4 separate regions of the Homo sapiens genome follow, and regions 2, 3 and 4 are each reported to be linked to region 1. The links are microRNA targets in miRTarBase. Many come from high-throughput screens and were not tested one by one. Region 1 holds a microRNA gene; each other region holds the end of a gene's coding sequence.

Region 1 (7,118 bases):
GAGGCCCTGGGCACTGCCGGAGGCAGCAGGCAGCCGTCCTTCTCTGCGGTCCCCAGCGGGTGGGGCCATTGCCCAGGTTTCTCCCCGCTGACCTCTGGGGCTACTTTTCTGACCTCACCCCAATCTCTCTCCTCCCTAGAAGCACATTCCTCCCCCAGAAAACTGAAACCAGAGCTGCAAAAGTAGAGAGACAGGTAACCAGTGCCTTCTTTCGGGCTCCTGTTCGCCAACCCCAGTCCCCACAGCAATCCTCCAGAGGTGGCTCTGAGAATCTTCGGGGGCCAGGCACACACCTGCCCCTGGACCCAAGGGCAGTACCCCCTCGGATGGTCCCTGGCAGCTCCCAGCAGGGTCAGCACAGGGCTCAGGGACCCCCACAGCCATCCGGGAAGGTCCGAGGGCCTCACGCTCTGAGTGGGTGGCTGCAGTCCTCCGCGCCCGCCCACAGATGTACTCGAGCTCAAGTGCCAGCCCTGATTCCTGCCGAACTGGGAACCTGTCCTCCAGGAGATGGGGCAGAGTAGGACAGGCGTTGAGGCCTTGGCTCCAAAGCTGGGGGCTGGGGGCCCTCTCTAGGTCCCAGACCAGTGCCTTGGGCCTCTCAGCCCACGATGAAGGCTAGGCTCTCAGGGCCCAGCCAGGCACAGTTCATAGCCAGCTCTCAGGGTCCAGCCAGGCACGGCTCAGAGCAGGTGAGGTGGCCTGCATGGCACCGCAGTAACAGGCCCTGGTGCCAACAGAGCCCCAACAGGGCTGGCAGGGGCCCCTCCCACTGGCCTGATACCCCTCCTGCCTCTGTGTTCCCAGAGGAGCTGGGGGTGGGCAGTGATGGGGGAAGCCTCAGGCTGGAAGCTTCCTGGGAGGGGGCTTGAGATCTGATAGCTCTGGAGGGACCCGCACCCACCACCTAGGCTCCAAGACAGAACTGGGAGGTCCTGAAGCCTGGCCATTCACCCCCAAACTCCCCAGCACGTCCGCCCCATGTGAGTGGTCGGCCTAGGACCCTAGGATGGGGGCAGATGAGGCTGTGGCTGAGGCCCTGCCTGCACCTGCACTCCTGGGTCAGCCCCACCCCTCGGCCCCTCCTCGCAGCCTGAGTGAAAGGCTAATTCACCACCCGCCCACACGGGCCCCACCAGCGCCCCTCCTCCTGCCATGCACAATGGAACCCGTGTCCCTGAAGGGCTGGCGCTCAAGGGGGCAGGAATCTGGGGTCAAGCATCCCTGGACTGCAGAAGAGCCCCTGCCCCCAGCACATGGCCATGTCCAGGACCAGAGAGCCCGCACCCCTGCCCCAGTGCCCACCCCTGCCCCGTGCCCACCCCTGTCCCTGTGCATAGCAGCCCCTTGGGCAGGGGAGGCTGGAGGCCGAGGGCTGTCCTGGACCCTGCCAACCCCTGGCCGGCCCCCAGGCCCAGGAGAAAGAGGTACATGCACCTTTGGCCCCACAGTGCGGCCTGTGACGCAGCCACAGGGAGTCCAGGGCTGCACACTGCGTCTACCCCACAGGCCACTCCCAGCCCTGTGCTGCCCCCACTCCAGAGCTGAGTCTTCCGGTCTCCCCAGATCACACCCAACGCCCAGCACCTGGGCCCCGGAGGGAGGCCACCCCATCTCCCCACCCAGCCCTCACCTGAGCGCCCAGGCTGCTTGGCCATGGGCAAGGAGACCTCCGTGAGTGGCAGGACGTACACGTCGGGCCCGTTCTGTGCTGCCGTGGCCGGGGAGCCCTGCGCCAGGTCGGCTGCGTACTCGTCCCCCTCCGCATTCTCAAACTCCTGCGGGCCGGGCCGGGCATGAGCGGGGCTTCTCGCAGGTCAAGGAAGGGTGTGGCTGGGCCTGGAAAGGCCCCTTTCTTCCAGGGCCGAGCTCCCAGGGCAGGGCAGGAGGGGGTGCTCGGCCCAGAGTTGGAGCCACCGCCCCTGCAGGCCAATGGCCCAGCACCCCTGCTAACTGCCCTTCCATCTGTCTCCTCTTGCTGACCCCCACGCCCCCGACCAGAGGCTCAGTTGTTCCATGAGGGGCCAGAGGCAGATCCCAGAGCCAAGAGGACCCATCTCAGACTCCAGAAAGGGCGCGATGAGCTGTAGGCACCAGCGCCTCAGCCTGGCCTCAGTTCCCCCATCCCTCCCTGGCGGGCAGCCCAGGCTGAGCCCCACCTTGGGGCCTGAGGGTCTAGAGGCAGGGAACCAAGGGACAGAGGTGAGGGCACTCAGGCCAGCTGGCCCTGCCCATCCAGAATCAGCCCCCAGCACCTCTCAGCCACCCACATCCCGAGCAGCCCCTCACCCCGGGCTGTGCCTGGGGTCCCACCCTCCCATGGCGCAGCTTCGGGGACAGGAATTCCATCACCCCCTGCCCCACAGTCCTGTGGGAGAAGCAATTAAGTGCCCCCACCCCTGCCGGGACAAGGAGCATTCCTGGATGTCTGGGAGCCCAGAGCCAACCGGCCACCTTTACCCTGGGCAGCCCACCTGCCACCGCCATCTGCCCCAGCAGCCTTGGACCTTCACCTGGTGGCCACACCACCTCCGGAGCTCCCAGAACTCCTTAAGAGCCTGGCCCCGTGCAGCCTAGGGCTGGGCCACTCCCTGCCAGGCTGCTATTTTGAAATGTAGAGGCTGCACCTGTATAGGGGATACCCCACCCCCAAGTCCAGGGCACATTCCTGCGCTGAGAGCCAAAGTCTCCAAAGTCCTGGGCCCAGCTGAAAGCAATTGCTCCAGGCACACAATGACAGCCCCAATCCCTGAGCACTTGGTACAGCCTTTCTGTCCTTCCTCACAACCCCCAGTGCCCTGGTGGGGAAGCTGAGGCTCAGAGGAGTCAAGGGACTTCCAGCTGGATGCTGGCCAGCACCCGGGCTGGTGAGTCCGAGGACAGGCAGGTGCAGTGGGAGGGGAGGCCTGGGCTCCTCAAGTACGACGTGTGACCCTGGGGACGCCTCCCTTCCCTGGGCTGCAAAGAGAGGGGCAGGTGGCTCTGTCGGTATTCCCGCAGGCCAGGCCCAGCCTGCCCTTTCGGAGCACACAGCCACTCAGGGATGGGGGACGCAGGTGCTGCGTGGGCAACTTCCCCTCCCCGGGACCCAGAAGACCACCCCAGAAGCCCCCTCTTGGGCCCTCCAATCCCAGCCCCGGCCTGGCCCCACCCATCTGGGCTTTGTAGAGGGGCCCAGGACACAGATGCTGTCTCTCCCTGGGGTCGGGCCCGGGCTCCAGGCATTACCTGCTGCCCGGGGGCCAGCCGGGTCCTGCCGATACAGCGTGCAATCAGGTAGCACAGGGTCAGCATTGGGGGCCTGCCCAGCCCCTTCCCTCAGCACAGCTCCCCACCAGGGAGCCCAGCGCAGGTCCCCAAATCCCAGGAGGGAGCCCAGTGTGGAGGCAGGACTTCCCAGGGGCACACTGGTGCTGGAATGTTCCGGGCACCATGTTCCCAAGGAGGTGAGGAGGGCGCAGGAGGAGGAGCTATGGCCAGCCCTTGTTTGGGGCCTTGTTCTTACAGTGCCCCAAGGAGGGGCCACTTATACAATAGCCCCACTCGTCCCACCCAGGCCCCACCTCCACTCCTGCTCCCGCCAAGACCTTGAGGCTCTGGCCTCGGGATCCCCAGGAAGGCGCCTGCGCGGCCTGGCCTGGCCCCTGGTGCCAGCGGGTCAGGGGTACATCCCAGAGCAGGGTGGGGGCTCTGGGCAGGAGTGCAGACCCCACAGCCTGGGGCCACAGCTTTGCCCCCCAGGCACGCAGCTCCTCACTGGTTGATGGGGCCTGTGGCCACTTCAGAGGGCTCTGGAAGGTTGAATGGGCTGGAAAATGTGGCCTTTAGAAAAGGCAAAAAGGCCACATCCAGCACCGTCACCTGCCAGGCCAGCGGGACAGGTGGGCAGAGCCAGCTCCTTGGCCCATTCTGCGTCATGACATACCAGGGGCAGGGAGGACTCTGGGACTGTCTCCCAAATGGGGGTGGCGCCAGCTGAGTCATGGGTCACTTAGTAGGAAGGCACCCTGAGATACAGACAGGGTGCTGTGCGCGCTGCAGAATGCCTCCTCCCACCCTCCTCCCTCCCTGACTTCTCCTGGCGTAGGAATCTGACCTCTGGCCCAGGGGTGGGGCTGACCCCCGTGGGCGTGTGAACCACCAGAGGTCCAGGCCAGGGTGTCATTTGCTCATCAGCAGGAATGGGACCCATGGAGACTCTGGGAGGGGGAGGCGATGCTGGCCGGGGTTCCTTCTGCCTGGCCCTCCCTGCTGCTCAGAGTTACAGCTGGAGGTGGGCTGGGGGTTTGCAGGGGGAGGAGCAGTGCTTGGCACCTGTCCTTGGCCAGGGGCCTTGGCCTCCAGAGGGGCAGCCTAGTGAGGCCAGGCCTCACCCTTGGCGGGGCTCCCTAACCAGCAGGCTGGGCTCTAGCATCACACATCGTCCCCTCCAGAAGGCAGAAGATACCCCGCGCAAGGTGACTCCAACTGGCAAGAAGGTCCCTGTGCCGGGAAGCTTGTCTGGGCAGCCCGGACTCCCCTTTGCAGATTGAATTCGGAGGGACGTGAGAGCCCCTTGCAGAGGCAGCTCCTCCACCAGGAGTCGGGCCTCTAGGGAGGCAAGCCCCCTCCCACACCAGCTCCAGAGCCCCCGACGCCCCCTGCAAGGCTGTCCTCAGCCTCCGTGAGTGCTCGGGCCCAACCCCAGGCTGGAGTGGGAGCGTCAGACCACGCCCCCCACAGAGGGCCTCAAAGTCGAGGAAGCTGGGGCAGGTCCCTGAGGAGGAGCTATGGAGTCCCTGGGCCAGGGTCCACGTGGTCCCCAGGTGGCCCCACAGCAACTACGGCCACCCAGCAGCCACCTTGATGGCCCCAGGAAGGAGGGAAGCTCAGGGTCAAGTGGACGCTACAGGCCTTGCCTGCGGGATCCCACGACAGCTCCCGCGGCCCCCAGGCCTCACCTTGAACCCGATACCGCCCTTCTTACAGCACAGGCAGGCCAGCATGAGGACGATGACGGCGAAGAGCCCGGAGAAAGACACAGCCACCACGGCGAGGGAGGATGGCCAGGACAGCTCGCTGAGCGGGGCGCCGTCTGCGGGAGAGCAGTGTGGTGAGAGTGGCCATGGCTGAGGGCCGGCCAGGCCCCTGCCCCTGCTCTGGGCTCCACAGCCCCACCTGGACTTGCTGCATTCCAGGCTGGGCCTCAGCACCCTGACCTCTCACCCCAGACCCCACACCTCACAGTGTGGCGAGGAGGTGGCCAGAGCCTGCAGTCCTGCAGCCAGCCACTGGACACCACCCTGGCTTCGCCAGGGGGACATAGGGTTGGCAGAGTGACCAGAGCCTGCCCAGTTCCCAATTCTGGGGTTCAGATACCCCTGAGAGGTCAGGGTCTCAGGGGCTACAGGGGGACCCCCATCTCCCTCCCAGATCCCAGTCACCCCACCTTGCCCCTCTGGGGCTGGGAAGGGAACATGGACTCTGTCAAACACGGGAGACCATGTTGCTGGCTGCTATCTGCTGGCCACACACCAGGCTCTGGACAGCGGGGGCTCAAGGCCCTTCCAGCCTCTGAGGTGCGGGGACCTCACTGTCCCTGAGAAGGTGGTGCTGCCTCTGCCAGGCAGCAGGGCTCCCGTGTGCCACCTGCTGCCTCGAATCCGTCCCCTTGCCAAACCCACTGCCAGGCCCCTCTGGTGCTGCTTCTGTCCTGGGAACCATGGGGAAACCCCGTTCTGCAGCTGCTGGTCCATGGAGCCCCTCATCCCAGAGGGGAACTGACAGTACAGCATCCCTCCCAACTTCGGAGTATTGAGCTGAGCCCGGCTTCCAAATCAGGACACCTGAGCTGAGCCAGGCTTTGAGGAAGCTCGGTCCATCTGCTGCCCACAGGATGGCATGGTGGGGGCCAGCCTTGGTGTCCCCTGGGCAGGGGAGGGCACACTGACCCGCTGGCTCTATCCCCTGGGCCTGCCCCGTCCCACCGCACCCAGCTCCAATCCATGCCCTTCCCTAGGAGCTTTCTGTCCGGCTGCCCTCCACTTGGCCCTGGAGATTTTCCGGCCACCCCCAGTGCCTTTTGCCACTGAGCACCTGCAACTTCTCAGCTCCCAACACCCCTCAACACCCCATCTCCTGGCCCAGCACACCCCCAAAGGTGTTGTCATCTCTACCCCACTGGACGAGCCAAGAAACAGGGTCAGTGTGGGCAGGGCTGCCCGAGGTGGCACAGCTGACCTCACCTGGCATGCTCTGCCAGGGCTGCAGGCTAATGGGGCATCTGGGAAGGCTGCCTGGAGGTGGCGTGAGCTAGAAGACAGTGAGGGCAGCCTAGGCTTCCTGCTCAGGTCTCCAGGTTGTTCCCCACACACGAGGAAGAGGGAACCAGGACGGCTTGGAGTGAGGACCAGACAGGGCCGTGGGGACAAGGAGGCAGGGGGCGGCCAGCAAAGCAAGACCTGGGTCACCGGGGAAGGAAACCAGCTCTGCCGCATGTGGAGACGAGCCAACGGGTAGGGCCGTGAACAGATGTCATCCCAGGCGAGGTTTCCAGGATGTGCGGGCGTGCGTGTCATGCGTGTAAGGACACCCTGCACACCGGGTAAGCCCCGCTGTGTTCTCATACCCGAACGGCAGGAACACAGGCAGGGGCTCACGAGGCACTCAACAGGCCCCGCCCTCCAAAGCAGCCAGCGCTCTTCGGAACTGCAAGTTGCCATGGTGCCCATCTCCCAGGCTCCATCTGGTGCCCGCCTGGCATCAGTCCACACCCCTCTAACACCTTCGCCCATGCCCTCCTGGCCCCTCTCCTGGCGGGCCCTTCCCTCATGGGACACACTGGATGAGTGAAGGAACCTATCTGTGGCCTTTTGGGGCCAGGATCTGGCCTCCTGTCCTCAGAGCCAGCAGAGCCCTGGGGCTGGACAGGCCACCTGCTGGGCAAAGAGCAGCCCCAGGAGGCCCGACCTCAGCCTCCCCCTCAACCTCCCCTTCGGAACCAACCTCGGCCACCCTGGGCTCCCCTCCCATGGCCCCATCCCTTCCCTGGTCCTCCCCCGAATGGAGGCAGCTGGCCTCAGCCTTCCCACCTCCAGGACCCCACCTCAGCTACCCTGGGCTCCCCCCAGCAGGACGCC
Region 2 (7,098 bases), not on the chromosome of region 1:
TATGATGACCAGCTGTTCTTTTTTTTTTTTTTTTTTTGAGTTGGAGTCTCGCTCTGTCACCCAGGCTGGAATGCAATGGTGCAATCTTGGCTCACTGCAAGCTTTGCCTCCCAGGTTCACGCCATTCTCTTGCCTCAGCCTCCTGAGTAGCTGGTACTACAGGTGCCCGCCACCATGCCCGGCTAATTTTTTTTGTATTTTTAGTAGAGACGGGGTTTCACCGTGTTAGCCAGGATGGTCTTGATCTCCTGACCTTGTGATCTGCCCGCCTCGGCCTCCCAAAGTGCTGGGGTTACAGGCGTGAGCCACTGCACCTGACCGATGACCAGCTGTTCTTACGATTGAAGAAGTTGCTATCTAGTTTGGAGGCTTAAGAATTTCCAACCAGTGTTTATCCGAGTTATTTTTGGCTGCAAACCCAAATATAAAATTTCACAATTGACAATTCAGGAGGCATTCTTTTCTTTTTCCTTCCTGCAGGTTTAATAGACTACAACTTCCACTGTTTCCGAAAAGCTATTCATGAGGTTTTTGAGGTGGGTGTGACTTCTCACAGGAGCTGTGGTCACCAGACTAGTGCCTCCAGTCTGAAAGCGCTGACACACAATGGCACGCCACGAAACGCCATCTAGTCTGAATCCCAGCGTCGGGGCTCTGTGCCAGCTTACTCTTCACTCCAGGGTCGGATGCCACGTGCTACAGGACATGGGAGCTGCTGCTTGTGGGAATCTGGTGCCTGTTCCACTAGAGACAAGGGGTAGAGTTTCTCATTTGGATGAAAACCCCTTCAACTGGTGGTGTACAACTGAAGCTACTATATCTTTTTTGAAAATGGCAAAAAAAAAAAAAAAAAATTCTGGAGACCACAGAACTCAAGTGTGTGTTTCTCCTCTTTTGGGTCCCCTTTAAGTAGTTGGGATATTTTGGACCTGGAGATAACACCAGTTACCCATCCTTACCAGGGAATGTTGCCATCAATTCCAGTTGAAAATAATAGAAAAGACTGAATTTTTATATGCTTCACTTAGGCTTTCATTTGAGTAGACTCTAAAAATTCTGCCTTGCTTAAGTTCTAACACTGCCTCTCAGATTTCAGTTTTGGACATTGCACAACTAAGACCTTTTAAATGCATTTGCTTGCTAACTCGGAAGACACATAGTCTGCAGCAAGACATTCCTATATTGAAGAAATGAGAGAAAATTTTATGCTGCATCAGGTGGAGAGCAAGGCTCAACGGTGGTTGCATTAGTTCCCTCGGAAGTATTGAAAAAACTTTGAAATGGAAGAAAATTTTTGCACCTATGTTCTGAGTACCAGATGTCTGGGTTCTTTCTTCTGCATTAGATAAATGATCATGCTCAGTGTAACAAAGGGAATTAAAAGTTTTCCCACAGTCCCCTTCTAGGGGAGAAACTCATTGTGTCACTGAAATGTTTAGCTTACTTTAATCTTGATATCAGCCTCTACAGACCTTTTATTCTAAGCTATCGAGCTTCTTGATTGCATTTGGTTGACCACGAGTGACCCTAAGGCATTGGGGGACTGTCCACTGGGAGTTGGAGTGAGCACGTGGTGCTGCAACAGGCATTGTTTTACATACTTTGTCTCTAGTATTCTGACACCAAGTGTCAACTGTGGTACTTTCTTTGCCTAGGATATGAATTCATAATTGTTGCTTTTGTTGATGGTTGATACCCTTTCCATTGATTTAAACCTAACACATTATTTCTATTCCACATGCCCAGTAGACATATATTCCAAAGCCACTGGACCACTTGAGTACATAAGTGCCACTGTTTAATGCAATATGTATATTCAGGTCTGTAAAGCTAACAGTGTGACTTGGAGTGCTTCCTGCAGGTGATTCTGACTTGAGTATTTACATGGACCATGGTGATATCCAAAAGAAAAATGCTTTTTATATTTATAGATTATTTCATTGAACTATATATGAAATGGGTATCAATAAATGTATTTACTCCAAAATCAGCGTTTCTCCTTGCCTGAGGTATGGAGGGTGGTGGCGGAACGTTGGGTTGTCCCACTTTGCCGTTTTCTCATCCATTTCTTTTTCTTTTGCTGCTTCCTGTGGTTAATGTTTCTTATGTGTCAGAGCTTCAGGTTCTATCCCGATGTGGGAATTTCATGGCCTTGTGTCTAGGTATCTCCCCTGGCCCATTTCTGCTCTAGGGTAGTAAATCTAAGCTCAGGTGAAAATGTTTTTGGTTGGGTGTTTCATATACACAAATCTCACACATGGTGGGGAGTATCCTGGTCCTGGCATCATTAATGTGTTAATCCAACCTAAGAAGGAGTGAGGAGATGAGTGAAGTAAAACACACTTAAACAATTGTACCGATTCCAGCTTGTTTTCTGTTTCCTCCAGTTGCTGACATACTCATTGACTCACTCTTAAATGTCAGTTAAATAATTGTTTGTCTATACAAACAGGTTGGGTCTAAACTAATCAGAGAAAAATAGACATTAGTTTATCAGTGGGAGGAAGACAGATTGAAAGATCTTTAAATTTTGTAATTGGACTACTTTAGAAGCTGTTTTAATTCTGAAATGGAAATCACAGAAACAGCTTGAAAAAACTCTTGTGAAACTATCTAATCCTGTCTTCTTTTTCAGATTTTGGAAACAGGTGCAGAGGGATAAGGAGCCTTGTTGAGGCTGTAGCTAGGAAGACTGTATAACTTAAATTCCAGATACTGTTGAGAGTGGAAGGGATGCCATTAGTAAGGATGCCTGAGCAGCAGGTGTGAACTGGCACTGTTGAGGGTACACTAAGGGTGGCCAGCCTCATCATAGATCTAATTAGTGGCAAAACAGGGCTTGTCCTCCAGGCCTGGCAGCCCAGCGTGGCATGCCTTTACTTGCAGCCTCCGGCCTTAGGCTCCCATTGGTTAAATGGAGAGAATATTTCAAGATGCATGTGGTACATAGATGCCCAATAAATGTTATGTTTTCCTGTTACTGAAAATTATAAATTCAGTCAGTGATTAAGGAGAAGTCTTTAATTGTGAAATAGAAAGTAAATGTGAAAGGAGACAACTCAGGATGAAGAAAACGGAGAATAAAATGATCAGGGTTTTGCTTGAAATGTTTTGCATCCCAGTGGATGTTGATCTCTACCAGTCTACTTCAAAGAGAACTAGGACAGATGGTTAAAAAATACCTTAAAGTCTTAAGCAGCAAGGTATTTTAGCTATTTCACATACCACCACCTCTCCCATTCACATTCATATATACACACACATACATATATGCATGTATATAATATCTCAATATAGAATGCTGGAGGTATTTGGGAGTTAATTTACCTTCTACATCTTGAGTTCTGTGTGGAGAAATGATTTAAAAGATAAAATCAAGCATTGTTGGAGAAAGCACTGTGTGTGAATTTTGGACTTTGGTAAGGATCTCTATCCTTTGTTTTGCAAATGCTGAAAGCCCTTCCAGTTATTCAAAAGAGATTATTAGTACCACTGTTTTCCATCTAAGCTAGTAAGTAAGCTAGTTAGTTTAAATGCTCCCCCTGTCCCTCTTGGGGGTCCCAAAGGAACATAGTCTGTAAGGGGAATGTGGACAGCAGCTGGGCATAACTGGAGAGGTTTTTTTTTTTTTTTTTTTTTTGAGACAAAATTTCGCTCTTGTCACCCAGGCGGCTGGAGTGCAATGGCGCAATCTTGGCTCACCGCAACATCCACCTCCCGGATTCAAGCGATTCTCCTGCCTCAGGCTCCTGAGTAGCTGGGATTACAGGCATGCGCCACCACACCCGGCTAATTTTGTATTTTTTCGGTAGAGATGGGGTTTCTCCATTTTGGCCAGGCTGGTCTTGAACTCCCGACCTCAGGTGATCCACCTGCCTCGGCCTCCCAAAGTGCTGGGATTACAGGCATGAGCCACCGTGCCAGGTGAGTGTTATTTGTTAATAGTAACTTCCCGGAACGGTACATTAGGATACTTTGGATACAAATAACATCCAAGAAGGACTTGAAGGGAAAGCCAACCACCACTAATTATTTTAGGTGGTTTACGTGTATTACCTTGTAATCTTCACAACTCCTTGGGAAGTAGGTGTTATATTCCTATGTTACAGAAGGGGAAATAGATACAGAACGGCTCAATTGTAAAGTGGTAGAGTTAGAATGGGAACCCATGCAGTTTGATTCCATAACCTGCAGCCGCAAACTACCACTCGACCTTCCTTTCCTAGTAGGGAGGGCGAGTTTGCTCACTGGTGTGTTTTGAAAGAAAGAAAACAACAACAACAACAAAAGGATTCTATAGTTAAGTTTTGGAAACTTGCAATCTGTAGTCTCTCTTTGGAGATTTTCTACATACAGTCAAATATGAAAGGTTCTGAGAAGACCTGCAATAAGGAAGCCTGTTTACCTTGGTTTATATCCCATGTTCCTAGGTTTATTTGACACATTAAAGAAATGCATATTCATTCAATCAGTGTGTAATAAATTCACAGTTTTGAAATGTTTTCATGAGATTGGAAGTATGATTTTTACACTGTTTTCCAAGTATCTTAATACAACCATCACCAAACTGGTTTCTTGGATGGCTAGTTCAACACCTGTCTTTGTAGGTAGTGAGCAGGAAGCATATTTAACTACTCTGTAACATTTCCTCAGTATCTTTACTCATTTAAGCCAGATGTGCTGCGAAGCACAGGCAGCTTGTCTACCTTTTCAGCCTGTTTGGTGATGGTGTCCAAGTCCTTAGTGTATGGCCTCTAGGTGGCAGTGTTGTATTATCTAAACACAGCTTCTTGCTTTCTGGCTTCTGCATGTGTGCTCTGTCCTGAAAGTTTGTATTGCCCGTATCACCTAAGTGCACACCTAACTTAGAGATCCAAAAAATTCCTGAAGTATTTTCCCTAGGATAACATTCAGGACTGATTTGAGACATCTTATTGGAAGTGGAGCAGTTGATGATTTCCACTTTTTAGTGAGGGGTTGGGTAAAACGAAGGTCATTAACATCATTTGCTTTATGTATTACTAGTTACAAAAGGGCCTTAAGACAGCTGTAGCCACATTCCTATAGCAGGCAGAACTTCTTGCTTCCTCTTCTAATCCATCTGTTGTAAATGTGTGTGGTCTTCAAGACTCCATGGAAAGAAATGCCACATATTTGAATTAAAATATCTGTTTTCACCACTTTTCTTTGTGTCAAATGAGGTTTGTTGAAATTATTTCACACTTATGCTTGAGAGATAAAATATGGCAAAGGAAAAGGCTGCAGAACCTTATCCTTCCATGGGTACTTATTTTTCCTTTTTTTTTTTTTTTTGAGACAAGGTCTTGCTCTGTCATACAGGCTGGAGTGCAGTGGCACGATCATAGCTCCCTGCGACCTCAACCTCCCAGGCTCAAGCGATCCTCCTGCCTCAGCCTCCCGAATAGCTGGGACTACAGGCATGCACCACCATGCCTGGCTAATTTTCTTTTTAATGTAGAGATGAGGGTCTCTCCATGTTGCCCAGGCTGGTCTCAGACTCCTGGGATCAGGCAATCCTCCACTGCCTCAGCTTCCCAAAGTGCTGGGATTACAGGTGTGAGTCATTGCTCCCAGCTTGTTTTTCTTTCTTCTAGAGCCATGTAATTGCTTCACAATCCCCAGCTGTGACTTTGCTCTGCAAAGACAAATTTTAGTGTAAAAAGAACTAGATACACCAGTGCATCTTCAGACCTGTTTAAAATATAATTGAGAAAATTGCAAAGGACTGTTATAATGAGGAACTGAATGGCAGGAAACTAGTTGTTCCTCCCCACACTTGAAAATGCCAGTTACTACCAACGTGTTGCCCGCAAAGTGCTGCAACTTCCACTTTAAGATTCTTACACTTTAAAATGCATCTTTTGAACTGATCAAATATATATATTTGTTATTGTGTGTTTTGTTTTGAGATGGAGTCTCACTCTGTTGCCCAGGCTGGAGTGCAGTGGCGTGATCTCGGCTCACTGCAACCTCCACCTCCTGGATTCAAGTAGTTCTCCTGCCTCAGCCTTCTGAGTAGCTGGGATTACAGGCGTGCACCACCAGGCCTGGCTAATGTTTTGTGCTTTTAGTAGAGATGGGGTTTCACCATGTTGGCCAGGCTGGTCTCGAACTCTTAACTTCAAGTGATCTGCTCGCCTCGGCCTCCCAGAGTGCTGGGATTACAGGCGTGAGCCACCACACCCAGCCTGGACTGATAAAATATTAGAAGGCATGTGGGAGACAATTAATTTGGTTTATTACAAAGTAACCTGCCGAACAGACAGGAACTTGACTTAGAGAAATGGAATATTAATTTTCTACAATATTCTTTTTGCTTTTCTTTAAAAAAGAGGTGCTGGCACACACATTTTAGCAAATTGTGAATATTCCTTCCTTTCTTTCCATGGCCTCTCTCTTATCTCCATGCAAATTGGCATGCAAACTTTGTGTTCCAGGTAATGAGGCTCCAGACAGGGCCTATCTTTCTCTGAAAAGCAGTGCTGGCATGTTCTGTACTGAGGCTTTTTCCCAGAAAATGTACTGCCTCTACAGCTTTGGAAGATGAACTGAGAAATAACGCTTATAACCCTACCAAACATTTCTCGAATATCTGTCTTGACTTTGGAAAGGGAGCTATTGGCCATTTCCATGCTTGGAGGATTCTTTTCTTCTACTGCACTGTAGTTCTTCCTGGCTAGATGTCTAGCACGGAGGCTCCTTGGACTAGTTCCTCACATGACCCCTGTGGCAGTCTATTGATGGGAACGGGACAATTGAGAAAGGCAGGCAGGCTGTCTGGCAAAAAGAAACTCATTAGGGTCAGGGGCCACAGGATCTCCATGGAGATGTTCTCTGGACTACTAGAGTGTTGAGGCTGGATGAAGGGGAAGAGGGCTGAGCTAGAGATCGAATTGGCATACTGAGTGGGAGCAGGGTGGGGTGGGAGGCAGAACTGGGCCTTAGGGAGGGCCTTGGTCAGTCAATGGAAGGAAGACAGCTGGAACAGAAGTTAGAATGATTCATGCAGTGAGAAGGAAACCAGGTAGAAAGGGAGGAATGCTCACCACTGAAATGTCTCTTATTTGTTGAAATGAA
Region 3 (7,118 bases), not on the chromosome of region 1:
TTTCTTTAGACATTATTTTGTGTATTTGTCAAGTTTATAAATGTCTTTATTTTTTTACTTTAAATTTTAACAATTACCATTAACCATATACACCAAAAAGGATTTCTATGGCCCATTAGACTGTCTTTCACAGATAATACTTTTGAATGTCAGTGCTTTACAGGGAGAAGTGAAGCCAGTACTACAGAAGTTAGGTCAAGATGAAGACATGGATGTCAAATACTTTGCACAGGAAGCTATAAGTGGTATGTATTTCCTTCTTTTGCCTTGCAGCTTATGCCTTGGTTAACTGGGATTTATCTCTATTATGTGAGAGGTGTTAAGTGGGTAGGATGATAAGTATTATGGGAAACAGGGAGGGTAGTAAGTTCCTGGAATGCTGGTGTCTCTCTGATTAGAACCCTCTTGGCCCACCATTTTCTCATAAGTGAGCAGGCTATTTTTCTTAGTTACATGTAGGACTGGGTAGGAAATACGATTCTCACTGGTAAGAATAGTTTTTCGTTTGGAATTTAACCAGTTTTTAAAGTTTCACTTCTGATTAGCCTGGCTGAGTAAAGACAGTAACCACAGTGAGAAGTTGTTAGTTTGATACGTTTGGATCATTGTTATTGTGCTTAATATTCACATAGATCGTTCGTGAACTTTCTGTACCACTAACCTGATTTTGTTTGGAATTTTCCAGTTCTTGCATTGGCATAATGAGGAGCAGGAGGGAAAAGGCCTTTACTAGATTCTTGTCACAAATTTCTAGTCAATGTGTTCTTAACTGGGTGGAGAAAGAATGGAAAACCTTCAAGATCTCATCCAAGCAAATGGCAACAACTTAGAAGAAATCATTTAGTGACTTAATTCTTTCTAAAGATGAAATGGGATTGTTTTTTACTCGTCTTCCTTGTTAAATCATTATTTAAGCCGTTCTTATTGACCAATTCCTGACACTTGATTGTCTCCTAATGCTTTATCCATCACCACCTGGGCTCCTGCATCCTCACTGTGGAATCAGGCACCAGCCACATAATGTTCCAGACAAAGCCTGGAAGGGTGTGGACCCAGACGTGGAGTGGAGTGATTCTCTTGACGTTTACATATATCTCTGTGTCTCTCCATCATTCCAAAGCTAAATGTACATGTTTAGAATAACTTATTTTATAAACTCTTCGGGAGACATGTTGAGATTTGACCGTAATGAAAGCCACATTTTCCTGAATTATGATGGTCTGCATTAGTCTCATGTGAAAGGGGAATGTGGAAGCTCAGGGTTAATGTAGTGGTTGTTTTGGTTTTTATTTGCTCAATTTTGTCTGTACTCATGTCATTCAGAAACCTGAAGTGTGGCTGCATCTTGCTGCTAATGTGTGATGTTGACGCCTAACTGAATTTGAACAGCTCACCACTGTGCCTACATTTAAAAATACTTCTCTCTCTTTTCTAAAAAGCTTTAACTGTAGTGCCTCCTAATAAGCAGTATGTTTGTTTCATTGTGAGATTGCAGTTCTGTATTTCGAATGAGTCTAAGAACCACAGGGATAATACTGTGCAGATTTCCTGTTCTTTACCTGGCTCTGCTTCCAGCAGTATTGACACCTAGTCCTTGCTGCATTGTACAGTAGCTTTTCAAACTGCAGTTTTATTGCTAAGTTTTTAGTATGGGTGATACTGGAGTCTTATCATTTGAAGTGTTTGCTTTTCTACTTTTACAGTAAAACCTCATTAATTCTGAAATTTAAGATAATGAGTTAAGCTGAAGAGTTTACTGAAGCAAATTAATAGTGAGGAAGCCTATTTGAACTACTTAAACAGTATTAAAGCCCTTTTTAAAAAGCACCTATTTGGGATCATTTGAGGTCAAGAATTCGAGATCAGCCTGACCAACATGGTGAAACCCCATCTCTACTAAAAATACAAAAAAGTTAGCTGGGCGTGGTGGCACACACCTGTAGTCCCAGCTACTCAGGAGGCTGAGGCAGGAGAATTGCTTGAACCTGGGAGGTAGAGGTTGCACTGAGCCGAGATCGCGCCACTGCACTCTAGCCTGGGCCATAGAGCGAGAGTCCATCTCAAAAAAAAACAACTATTTTTCACATAATCAAACTCACCTTGTCTCATGACTTTTGGTTAAGGGGGTTTTCCCATAGTTTATTTTTCTCTCAGTGCATCTTGCTATGAGGTTTGCTTGTTACCCTTTTGGTTTTTGAATTGTTGATTTTGTTCACAACCTCTTTTAAATCTAACAAGTCCTGTTCTGTTTAGTGAAGGCCCAAAGACTCCTCTAAGACTTTGTATATTTGTTACATAAAACCAAGTTTTACTAAATACTTTAAAATTTGTCCTACATTCGAAAAATAGAAATTGTAAATCAGAGGTTATCTGTCTGCATTTTAAACTGCCAAATTACCTTATAGTAAGTTTCTATTTTATGACTTTGGGCCAAGAATTAAGTATTTTCCTAAGCACAAATCTTTTTCTATATTCTCATTTTAATATCTTATGCTATTATTCTGTAAACATTTTAATTTTAGTTTCATGAGTCTTTATTTTTTGTTACCTGCAAGTTATGTTCTTCTTCATTGAATTTCATATTTGAGAGACATTTGTCTTCATGAAGCAGATTTGCACTGGAACCATTGCTTTACTCTGGTTGGAAATGCCATTGTTTTGGGGACAGACTTTTAAAATGCCCTTGTGTCTCCCAGTGAGGAGCCCTAAGCATTGACTTCTCTACCCTAAAACTGTTTGAGAGAGGGAGAGTGGGCCCTGGCTTTCTCAAGCATGGGTCGGGGGTTCAGCGGGGCCTCTGTCTTTTGTGGTGACCCCTCAGGGGTTTCATTGTTTCCTTCTGACTTAAGCAATAGAGAGAGAATTTGTTTTGGTACTCTTCAGAGGAATTGTGCTTTGGCTCATAACTTGGCCATGTTCTCCATGAATTAGTTCTCCTATTTTTTTTTTTAACTACCTTAAACTTAAGGGAAAAGTTCTCCTATCTTGATTTCACTGGAATATAGGCTTTAGGAGCTCTGTAAGGCTGGTATTTTTGTCTGTTTTATCTTCTACTGTATCGCCAGTGCCTGGAACAGTGTCTGGTGCACATAATAGGTGCTCAATAAAAATGTGTTCAATGGATGAATTTCTAAAATATCCTCCAATGTGTGCATGGAACAAATAATCAAAAGAACCAGACTGTGTCTTATTCTCCCACTGACAGAAAGATTTTCCTGCTTTCAGGAAACAAGCTTTATGTGGCCCTTTTCTGGTCCCCTGGCTTAGACTACAGTTCTGTGTGGATTTGTCTGATTGCTTCAGACATGTAATGTTGTTTTTCATCCTTGGCAGCTTACATCAGTTGTTTGTTTGATTAGAAAAATGAAGCAGACACACACACACACACACACACACACACACACACACACACACAAACATATAACCTATGCCAATAAAAATGTCTCAGCAACAGTGGAATTCACCTTGGTGTTTCTCTCTGTAATTTGTGTGGGGTTTACCCCTCACAGGTTTAAGAGACCAGGTCTTGTTTCTCTCTCTGTGCTACCAAGAAGATGTGAACCTGAGGATGCATCTTGTTTCATAAGAAGGAAGGCAGGTGAATATGTGGTTTCTAACGAGGTCTTGTTGAAATAACGGGCTGCCCTCAGCTCACAGAAATACCACAGCTCAGCCACTGTGATGCAGAGCCCCAGGGGTCTTTGCCAGACAACTTGTCCTGACTCAACAGAGACGGCAGCCTGACCTTTGAGCTGGCTTGTCCAGGCATTCAGGTTGCTTGCGTAGACTTCCAGGGAAGCAAGCCTGTCCTTCCTGACCCGGCGGTTAACCTGGTGCACTTTTGTTCCTTTGTTAACTGTTGTGTTGTCACTAAACTGAAAGGCTGGGGCTTGCCCTTAGACGTCACATTGGCTCTGTCCCTGTGGCGATGGCAGGGCAGGGTGGCCAAACAGGTCAGGTGCTTGTTCTGTCCTCTTGCCTTTTACTTAAATTCCTCTGACTTTTAAAAATGGTGACACTCTTATCGTAAAGCTTCTTATTTTTCTCCACTGCTTGGATATGAAACTGTAGAGGGAGAGGCCCTGTTGCCCAGTGTTCTCCTGGTTTAGCAGCTGAGGTGACTGCAGTCTGATGTGATGTAACTGTTTCCCTTTGATTCTCCAGTATTCCTGTTTCCATCCAGTTCCTTACTCTCCTCTTTCCTCTTCCCTCGCATGTCTCCCTCCAGTCCTCTGTACCTAGAATAGTCTCACTGTCCCCCGTTTGCCTCCACGAGCCTGCTGTTTCCAGGAAATTACATAACGTTCAGTTGGGATGGAAATCTTCCGGAGGACGAATAGAGTTTAATTACTCATTGCGTCGGAAAGCCAAGCCATTTCTGTCTCCAGAGTTGTTCTCTTAAACTGATATGAGTTCTGAAAGGAGCCAGGTCTTTCCTGTGGTTGGGGCTCTGGAGACCATCAGTGACCAGGATGTGGGGAACAGCCAGGTGGACACCAAAAGGCCCGATGGGGTGGCGCTTTCCAGGGCCCCGAGGGAAAGGCACCTCAGCACGACCCTGGGCTGCCCCAGCTTTCTCTGCCCAGTGCCCCATATACTTGTAGGCTGCTGCTGGACACCCAACTCTGCTGGCACAACTGAGGGCATCCTGGCTGGGAAGCACAGGTGGGCTTGGGAGGGATGTGCCCTGGTCAGGGACAGTTACAGCGCCACTGTCTGTGTCTCTAGTGGTGGCACAAAGGCTGAGGAAGCTAGAATTTCCTGTGAAGGACAGTGGAGAACCCAGTGTCCCTCGGGCTGACAAGAACCACTTCCCAAGACCCACAGTGCCTGGAGAGGACATGGGGAAGGTAAGTGCCCGGAAGCCTGGGGTCAAGTCCTGCCCTCAGGGCTGCGGGCAGCCAGGGTGGCATGGTGTGCAGGGAGCTGCCACAGGGTAGGCGGAGAAGCAGCACCTCTCACTTTGTCCCCAGGGGAAGAGTCCAATTTTAAGGGCCGGGAGTAGATGGTTAAAGCCTGTTGCTGGCTTACTTCATTCTGGGAATGCTTTCTGAGAGGTGGGTCGCCGGCCAGAGCTGTCACTCTTGTAGCTTGAGGCCCATCTCCTATCACCTCCCAGTCCAACAGCGAGGCCCATACAGAGGACACCAGTGGGGTTTGGTGAAGAATTGCTTGTAAAAAGGGGCTGTTCCCACTTTCCTCACATAATATAGAAGTGACTTGCCATAATTCCTCTCAGTTATTTCCATTCAAGATAAAAATAGTTGCAAGTTTCTCTGTAACAGCTCAGATGTTCTACAAGCCCCATTGGATGCCACTCTGTGTGGAAATGGTGTGAAAAGCCCCAGTTCAGCAGTCAGTGGGTGCCAGCCACTGCCCCAGGGCCATTCATTAGGAGGGCGATTTGTGGCTTACAGATACATTCAGAAAAGGAGAGCAGCAGGGCTTGGCTGCCTCGTGCGGATGCCAGACTGCGTTTAGTTCATGGGGAAAAATCTGACATTCTCACACCCATTCTAGTAGGTTCGCTTAGTGAAAATTCAATGAAGTAACATCAAAAAGGCTGCCTTTTAAGTCACATGGCTTTTCATTTTATGTGAACCGAAACCATGAAAACGTTTTTTGCCTTTTGTTGAGGTCCAGAATCGCAGTCACTCATCTTAGAACATTCTTGCCTTCCTGAGGGGCTGCACACTTGTCCGTGGGCAGCTCCAGCCGTTCCTGCAGTGGCCGCACAGTGAGAGGAAGGGCTGGGTGACCACTGTCCAGTTGGATTCCAGGGGTGGCCAGCCCTTGGAGTCCATGTCGTCTTCACAGAACTGGGCCTCAGGGAGGAGAGCTTGGCTGAAGGAGTGGGAGTGACAGTTACACATTTTTTAGGCCTAAACCACAGACTTCTTTGGGAAGAAAGGGGTTACGTCTTCCTACAAATTCAGAGCCAGCTGCTCATGCCATGAATGCGTGGTATGACCCGATCTGAGTGTGGATCATTGAGGCGGCCCTCCCATGGCTGACCTGCTCAGCTCTGACAGGGCCCGGGCTGCCTCTGCTAGCCGAGGAGTTACTGAGAATAAGTTGCCGTTACTCGAGCCTTGGTCACTGCAGCACCTTGTCAGGCACTTCAAATCTCATGTCATCCTCACCCACCCTAGGTGGTAGGTGCTATCATTGTTTTTTGGTCCCTCATGAATCTCCTCCAACCCCTGGCATGTCTATTTGGGAATCTTTTTTCCAGGAAAGGAGGCCCAGTGGTGCTAGGCCTCTGAGGCTTCAGTTCATTTAACTCAGAAAAATCCCCCGCCCCATGACTCAGGGAGCCTTCCATGCATTTGTTTCACTTAAGGAAAATGACCCGAGGGTGAGATGGAAAGGGAATTGGCTGTTGCCAGGCAGAGCCCTGTGTGTCAGGGGCCAGCAGCCAAGTGAGTGATCCAGGAAGTCATCCAATTGCAACCAGAAATTGTTCTTAACCCCTCACTGTCTAGGGTGCGTAGTGGACTTGCCAATCTGTCCGAATGGGGTGAGCGTGAGCGCGCTGCTGTTGAGAGCCCTGGGAACTGTCAGTTCTCAGCCAGCCTCAGGGCCCTCAGGGAGCCATTGGACATCCCTGGGGCTGGGCCCGCCACTTGAAGAGAAAAGGGAAAGGGCGAGAGCCAGTCTCCCTTGGTGAAGAGCGCCTCCTTGGCACCCTTGAAGTCTGTGGAGGTGCCTCTGTGTTGGATGTCACATGTGTCCACCCAGGCAGGATCTGCCAGGGAGCAGCGAGGGTCACCTCCCACACCTTGCTGCCGCGGGTCCGGCAGCGGCTCACTCCTGGACGGGACACAGGGTGCCCCCGCTGAAGCTGCTGACGGGCCTTGTCAGGCAGGGGTTAACAGGGGATTTGTTTATTGAATCACCAAGTAGCTGTCACATGATTTTAATCAAAACACCATTTCCCTGACAACAGTGATGTCAGTCTTGTTATTGCAGGAAGGAGCAGCTGTGAGGGACATTCAGTCTCCATGCCGAGCCCAGGTTTGGAGACTAAAATCAAGTGAAGCATCCATAAATAATGGCTACAGACACTGCCTGACTGCGCCCACCCTCCTCCTCTTCCTTTTCTCTGCACACAGTCT
Region 4 (7,118 bases), not on the chromosome of region 1:
GCCTTTCCATCTCTTCCTGATGCCTTTCCCCACAATCTAAGATATTTCCAGAGGATCCCTATCCTTTTCCCTAAGTCGTTTGGGACACAGACCCCACCACCCACCCACCAGGATCCTGCAGGTCACCATGCCCCACCCCTCATAATCATTTACTAGGTCCTAGGAGTTGTGCCCACTGAGTTCCTCCTGAATCCGTCTCATTGCAGCTCTACAGCAGGCCCTCACCTGTCCCTCTGGACAATTGCAAACCCTCACAAGGCACCTCTGGTCTTGAGTCTTTTCCTCTTTTCCTTTCCCAGCATCCTGCGTACTGTCTGCATGGTCATGCCTCTCCCAAAATCCTTCAGGAGGAAAGTCCAAGCCCTTAGCATGGTTCACAGAGATGTCCATAATCTGCCGCTGCTTAACTCTGGGCCCATTTTAACTCCCCTTCAACGTGCTGAAGGTGCTGGACATGACTATCACATGTCTTTGGTTGTAAACTGCTGTGATAGTTACCCTAAGTAATGGGACAGGAGATGAACCCACCCATTAAATAACACAGCAATTAAGCAGCCACTTTTAGAAAAATTTAAATGTGTGGCTTCGAGTTGGGTACTTGCATGTACAGCTTACTCTCAGCTTTTATCCTGTTTCCCTGTCCTGTCGTCCTGTTAAGTTGTGCTACTTCTAAGGCTCTGGTTCACCAGGACCTCAAAGGGCAGCTCTTCCAAATCTCACCTGACTCTACTCAGCCAAAATTCGAAGGCAGGAATGAACTTCTTCATGCAACTACCACCACACTTTCTATGCGTATTCCTCTTAGAACTCATACCAGTAACTGTCTCTCATATGAAAATTTTCTGCTCCAAAATCCCTGCAAATTTGGCATTCACCTCTCTACGGGATTGTTGCACACCTTTCTACATAATGCTTTGTGGTGTATCTTAGGGAGAGTGGTGAACGTATCTAGCATCATGAGCGTCAGAGCCCTTAAAAGCTGCAGCCCAGAGCTGCAGCAGAAGTTCCGCAGTGAGACCATCACTGAGGAGGAGCTGGTGGGGCTCATGAACAAGTTTGTGGAGGATACAAAGAAGGGAGTGCACCAGAAGGAGGGCTGGCCCAGCAGCGCATACGGGGTGACGAAGATTGGCGTCACCGTTCTGTCCAGGATCCACGCCAGGAAACTGAGTGAGCAGAGGAAAGGGGACAAGATCCTCCTGAATGCCTGCTGCCCAGGGTGGGTGAGAACTGACATGGCGGGACCCAAGGCCACCAAGAGCCCAGAAGAAGGTGCAGAGACCCCTGTGTACTTGGCCCTTTTGCCCCCAGATGCTGAGGGTCCCCATGGACAATTTGTTTCAGAGAAGAGAGTTGAACAGTGGTGAGCTGGGCTCACAGCTCCATCCATGGGCCCCATTTTGTACCTTGTCCTGAGTTGGTCCAAAGGGCATTTACAATGTCATAAATATCCTTATATAAGAAAAAAAATGATCTCTTATCAATTAGCACTCACTAATGTACTACTAATTGAGCAACCTACGCACTCAGTTGACTACGTAAATCTGTCAGGTCTTTTGTGATTTCCTCTGATGCAGGAGAGGAAAAATTGTAATTGATGAAAATAATGAATGAAAATCAACAGATGAATAAATGGTTCTTTATAAGTGTCCATTTGTACAGATTGTTTAGATGCTAAATAAGCTTTGTCTCAAGTACAATCAACCTAAAAGGTCAAGGGAAGGGACAGTACAACTTGGGGGTGAGCAAACCCAGAAAGTAAAGAAAGAGCCAGTTAGTCAATATTTTCAATGTTGTAGGTCAAACAATGCATTGGAACTCCCCAAATCCACATTATGTAACAAAAGCTGACAGCATGTAAGCCTGTGAGCATAGCTGGCTCTGGCCCTTCCCAGCCTCTAGGAAAACAAATAGTACCACAACGGCAAAGGCAGCTGACCTGGTCTCTTTAAAAAAGCCAAAGTCATTGGGGAAAAACAACCAGTTGCTATGTGTGAAACGTGAGTGTGCACTTGTGTGAAACACCGAGCTGATGAGGGACCTATCAGATCTCCATAGGAATGTGTTATTTATGTAGGGATGAAGTGTCATGAGGTGTACAACATATGCCCCAGGTGTACAACATGTGTTTCAGCAAAGTATACAAAGACTGATGAACAGGTAAGGCAAAAAAAAAACAACTTTTCTGTTTGTTGAAAGCTTTCAAAACCTGGGGGTTGGCAGTGGAAACTTCTGGCTCTGCCCACTGAATTCCTGACCTCAGGCAGAATACTGTATCTGGCTTTGTCTCTGTTTCCTCAACTGTCAAATTGGGATGACAGTCATAGGATTATATGTATTGAGATAAAGTGTTGAGAACAAATTAGCTGGGTGTGATGGTGGGCGCCTGTAATCCCAGCTACTCAGGAGGCTGAGGCAGGAGAATCGCTTGAACCCAGGGGGTGGAGGTTGCAGTGAGCCAAGATTGCACTACTGCACTCCAGCCTGGGCGACAGAGTGAGACTTCATCTCAAAAAAAAAAAAAAAAATAGTGTTGAGAACAGCCCCTGCTGTCATTAGTTCCTGTAAATGGGCCTGACGCTGTCCCTGCTGGTAATGAGAAGTGTGTGTTTACTGTCTAACACCCAGTAAATGCCCAGGCCATTCTGTTTCTTCCACAGAATCACAGTGTTGTGATCTCTCACACTTCACCAGTGAGAATTAAGGCTTACAGAAACAAAAAGCGATCACCCGTGAAAAGAAGGAGAGGCCCCTTATTTTATTTTTATCTATTTATTTTTTAATTCTCCAAACTGCTTCGGAAGAGTCCCTTATTTTATTTATTTATTTATTTATTTGTTTGTTTGTTTGTTTGTTTATTGAGACAGAGTCTCAATCTTGGTTCAGTGCAACCTCTGCCTCCTGGGTTCAAGTGATTCTCCTGCCTCAGCCTCCTGAGTAGCTGGGATTACAGGCGCCCGCCACCATGCATGGCTAACTTTTGTATTTTTAGTAGAGACAGGGTTTCGCCATGTTGGCCAAGCTGATCTCGAACTTCTGGCCTCAAGTGATCCACCCGCCTCGGCCTCCCAAAGTACTGGGATTACAGACATGAGCCACTGCACCCAGCCTAGTCCCTTAGGTTAAAAGTGAGGTTTACTTTGACAAGTTTCACCTTTCAGTAGGGCTGTTCATTTCTTCCTAGTTTTTGTACACAGACACCAGAAAACAATCACGTCTGCAGCAAAACTGGTATTCTCAAGTGCTAGTTTAGAAATTTGTACCTGTATTGCAAAGATATTTTTCCCTTAATACCTTAAAAATAACACCTAACTTCTTTAAGAGATTTAGAGAAAGCATTGTTCCAAATTCAAGTACCTGCTTACCTCTGAGGGTGAGGGGAGGAGGACATACGTGGTTCCGTCTTTATTGCTAAGGATTTCTTTCTTATACCAGGTGATAGGTACATGGTGCTAAAATACAATTTTCAGAAAAAGGTAAAATCATGACTGTCATACAGATGTAAAAATAATAGTCAAAAAAATGTATTTTACTCATAAGGGAACCAGGGAAATGTTATAACTGGTTCAAAGGAAAAGCTAAAAGGAAAAGCTAACAGATTATATGGAATCAACAAATGTTGAGCTGAATTGCAAATGACGACAAAACTGGTGTTTTTACAGGGAGGAGGACGTCAATTCAGTCACCACTAGACAGGACAGCACTTGCACCTCTGTTACCTACAATTAAGAAAGAGATGCAAAATATCTCAAAGAATGAACAGGGCCATAGTTCAATGCTACGAGTCTTGCCTTGCAAGCACCCTTCACTCTGTTGTGTGAGTCTGGCAAAACACCCATCCCCATGCTTAATAACCATGCCAGCCTGCTCTAGCAGCTCTTAACAGATGATGTTGCTAGGGAGAAAGGAAACAAGAGGCTGACTGTACTCTTTTATGTTCCCACCCCAATCCCAAACAGACAAGCAATTCTCCTAGCCAGTGTTGTCTTTTCCCCTAGTAAATTCACTCTCCTACTCTGTAAGATGATTATTCTTTCCGCATATCTCCCAGACTGATCGTGCTGGAGGATGTCCTCAAATCTGTTCCCTAAAAAAGAAATAGATGCCCCTGAGGAGAGTCGTTCAACATACCTGCAACCAGACAGCACACCCTGCCCCCCTTTCCGTTACAAGAAGAGGCACACTGCTTCCCAGGCAGCACCCCCACCAGAGTCCTGGTTCGTCCATTATTGCCCTCCCAAACATTTTGTTCTTGTAATTATTCCCTTTCTTTCCTTCACCAAATTCACCTCTCAGATTACCATTGCATAAAAACATGCTTTAATATCTCTCCCAGCTTTTAAAACTAAGGAGTTGAGTCACACAAAGTATATTCTCCGACCACACTGGAATTAAGTTAGAAATCAATAGTAAGATGGCTAGAAAATCCCCAAATAGTTGGAAACCAACAAAATACACTTTCAAACACCCTTAGTCGAAAAGATATCAAAAGTTAAGAAAACAACAACAACAAAATTTTTTAAAGATATTGAAAGTTAAATTCAAAAGTATTTTGAACTGAATGAAACTGAAAACAACATATCAATGTTTGTGGGATGGCACTAAAGCGGTACTTCGAGGGAAATGTATACTACGTAATGCCTACACTAGAAAAGAACTGTCTCAAACAATGACCTCAGCTTCCATGGTAAGAAACTAGAATAAGAGCAAATGAAACCCCAAATGAGCAGATGAAAGGAAATAAAGATCAGAACAAAAATTAGTATAATCAGAAGAGAGCAATAAAGGTAAAAAAAAAAATCAATGAAGCCAAAAGCCGGTTCCTTGAGGAAAAACAAAAAGTGCTAAACCTCTAGCCAGAGAGATCAGAAAAAGAAAAAAAAAATGAAAGACACAGATTACCAATGTCAGGAATGAGAAGTAGCATCATTATGATTAATAAGAAGATAATAAGGGGTTGGGCACAGTGGCTCACACCTAAAATCCCAGCTCTTTGGGAAGCCGAGGCAGGTGGATCACCTGAGGTCAGGAGTTCAAGCCCAGCGGGCCAACAGGGTGAAACCCCATCTCTACTAGAAATACAAAAACTAGCCAGACATTGTGGCAGACACCTGTAATCCCAGCTACTCTGGAGGCTGAGGCAGGAGAATCGCTTGAACCCAGGTGGAGATTGCAGTGAACCGAGATCATGCCACTGCACTCCAGCCTGGGCAACAGAGTAAGACTGTCTAAAAAAAAAAAGAGCATTTTACTAACAACCTCAAATCATTGGAATTAACAACTTACATAAAATGTACACATTTATTAATATTTAGAAAAACACTAAGCTCACTGAAGAAGAAATGGAAAACCTGAATAGCTCTATGTCTGTAAAGTGAAGTTTCAAATACTCTTTGGAAAGAAAGAAAGATTGGTTGGGGCATAAAGGGAACCACACCCAGCAGGTGCCCAGCTATTAACTTGACTTTGATAGAGAAAGTGGACTCGGTGGCAGGGCACAGGCAGTTCAGCCAGATCTGCTTGAGTAAAGCAGAGTCATGATGAGATGGTGGCTCTCTGCTAATCTCAGAGTCGCTAATCAAACACACTCAGATCAAACACGTGGGTTACAGTGAAGAAGACGAATGAAGGAATCCAATTGCCCGTCTATACCTTGACACACCTTTGACAATTCCTTTGTTTTGTGGGTACACATTTCATGGGGAGATGCCATATATTTTACATATTAACTGTGACTTTGGATAAAACAAAAATGCAGACACTTTTAGCAAACGGGTTATGTAACAATTAGATAAAACATTCTAATAAATGGCTTACGGCATAGTAGGAGCTTCATAAACATTCTCTCTCATTTGAGGGCATACTAGGAACCACACAGAGATTGCCTGCCCATGCCTGGAAGTCTAATTACAGGACATCTTTTTTCTCTAATTCTTAAGTTTCAGTTTCTCTTAAGAAAGGGGATGTATGTCCTGAGAAGCACTTAGTGTGTAAATAATTTCATTGCATCTTAAGATAAAGCAAACATCTGCATTTTGCAGTGGGTGATGGGTGCACATCCAAGAAAATTACTTGGCACATGTTTTCCTCCCTTTGGGATTCTCCCAAAATAGTTTTAATTCAACTGTCACCTGTCTCAGGCCCCCTACTGACCCATCACCATCCAGTTTTGCTTTCAGAGAGCCCGACCTCTTAGCCCTGCAAACCATTGCTTGGCTCTGTTAGGATCAAAAGAGGGATGTGTCTTGGCATGACCCAATACACAGCTCATGGAAAGGGTAGACCCAGGAGTGGGGGCATTAGGAAACTTTCTGGAACATTCAGCCCCTCGAGTTGCAGCACTGGAATGCAGAACTTAGCTCTGCTGTACAGCCCAGAGCAACCATGCCGGCCTGCAGCCATAAGGCACCTTCAGGCTGCAACAATTCCGAGAATTGACGTCTCTGTACACGCAGGTCCCAATACCACTTATAATGTGTACGAGGTGTTAGTCTCAGATAAACAGGACTGGGCACTTTGGCTGCAAACAAAGCAGCATCTGGTGGGACACACGGAGGCACAAGGAGGTACAAGAGGAGTTGTTCATGACACGGGGTCAGAATCCATGCCTTCCATTAGCTGGGCTACTTACTCGGATCTCCATAATCCCAATATAGGTGAGAAGGTGTCTATACCCTGTGAAGTATAATTTTGGCAGAACAAGGTACATTTCTTAGGATATGGACTATCCCAGGAAGTCCATCCCTCACAAGGATTTACCATTCGGAACTGCCCAGTCCTGACACTAAAAGACAACACAGGAGATTTAGGGTCACACTAGCTATTGCAGAAAGTCAGTCCCTAACTTTTCTGTAATCACCACAATTCTATAACTTTCAGTCATCTATGCCAGAATTCCCATTTTTGGGAACAGTAATAGATTGAAGGCTGGCTGCCAAGAAGATATGTCCATGTGTCAGAATCTATGAATATTTTCTTTGGAAGAAAGATTTTTGCAAATGTAATTAAGGATTTCAAGCTGAGCTCATCCTGGATTATCTGGGTGGGCCCTAAATCAATGACAAGTGTCTTTTTACAAAACAGAGAGACAAGGCAGGCATATGAAGACAGGTTGATTA

Evidence for each region. Region 1 holds the annotated microRNA hsa-miR-1250-3p (ACAUUUUCCAGCCCAUUCA, at 3,801-3,819, opposite strand). A microRNA usually pairs through its seed, bases 2 to 8, with sites in the 3' UTR of a target mRNA and lowers its output. Matches are read on the target gene's strand: a 7mer-m8 pairs with bases 2 to 8, a 7mer-A1 pairs with bases 2 to 7 and ends in A, and an 8mer does both.
Region 2: the mRNA of RRAGC is a reported target of hsa-miR-1250-3p. Seed matches in the 3' UTR shown: 7mer-m8 at 828-834.
Region 3: the mRNA of PPP2R1B is a reported target of hsa-miR-1250-3p. Seed matches in the 3' UTR shown: 7mer-A1 at 3,361-3,367.
Region 4: the mRNA of CBR1 is a reported target of hsa-miR-1250-3p. Seed matches in the 3' UTR shown: 7mer-A1 at 1,467-1,473.

Annotation. Positions count from the first base shown.
Region 1 is chr17:81,129,428-81,136,545 of GRCh38, forward strand. MIR1250 (microRNA 1250) reads right to left here and starts at 3,881; the gene lies at 3,769-3,881. AATK (apoptosis associated tyrosine kinase) reads right to left here. Exons shown (of 14, transcript NM_001080395.3): 2 at 4,941-5,074; 3 at 1,634-1,778. LOC124904079 (a long non-coding RNA gene) reads left to right here. Exons shown (of 4, transcript XR_007065937.1): 1 at 1-194; 2 at 4,969-6,180; 3 at 6,330-6,494; 4 at 6,619-7,118.
Region 2 is chr1:38,833,087-38,840,184 of GRCh38, reverse strand. RRAGC (Ras related GTP binding C) reads left to right here. Exons shown (of 7, transcript NM_022157.4): 7 at 481-1,987. The coding sequence ends at 632. Among named protein-coding and RNA genes, the nearest start is that of RRAGC, 23 kb to the left of the region's middle.
Region 3 is chr11:111,735,180-111,742,297 of GRCh38, reverse strand. It overlaps PPP2R1B (protein phosphatase 2 scaffold subunit Abeta), which reads left to right. Exons shown (of 15, transcript NM_002716.5): 14 at 154-245; 15 at 686-4,421. The coding sequence ends at 702. Among named protein-coding and RNA genes, the nearest start is that of PPP2R1B, 28 kb to the left of the region's middle. RefSeq lists an enhancer at 6,618-7,118.
Region 4 is chr21:36,071,516-36,078,633 of GRCh38, forward strand. It overlaps CBR1 (carbonyl reductase 1), which reads left to right. Exons shown (of 3, transcript NM_001757.4): 3 at 931-1,649. The coding sequence ends at 1,367. CBR1-AS1 (CBR1 antisense RNA 1) reads right to left here. Exons shown (of 4, transcript NR_040084.1): 3 at 3,366-3,452. Among named protein-coding and RNA genes, the nearest start is that of CBR1, 5.1 kb to the left of the region's middle.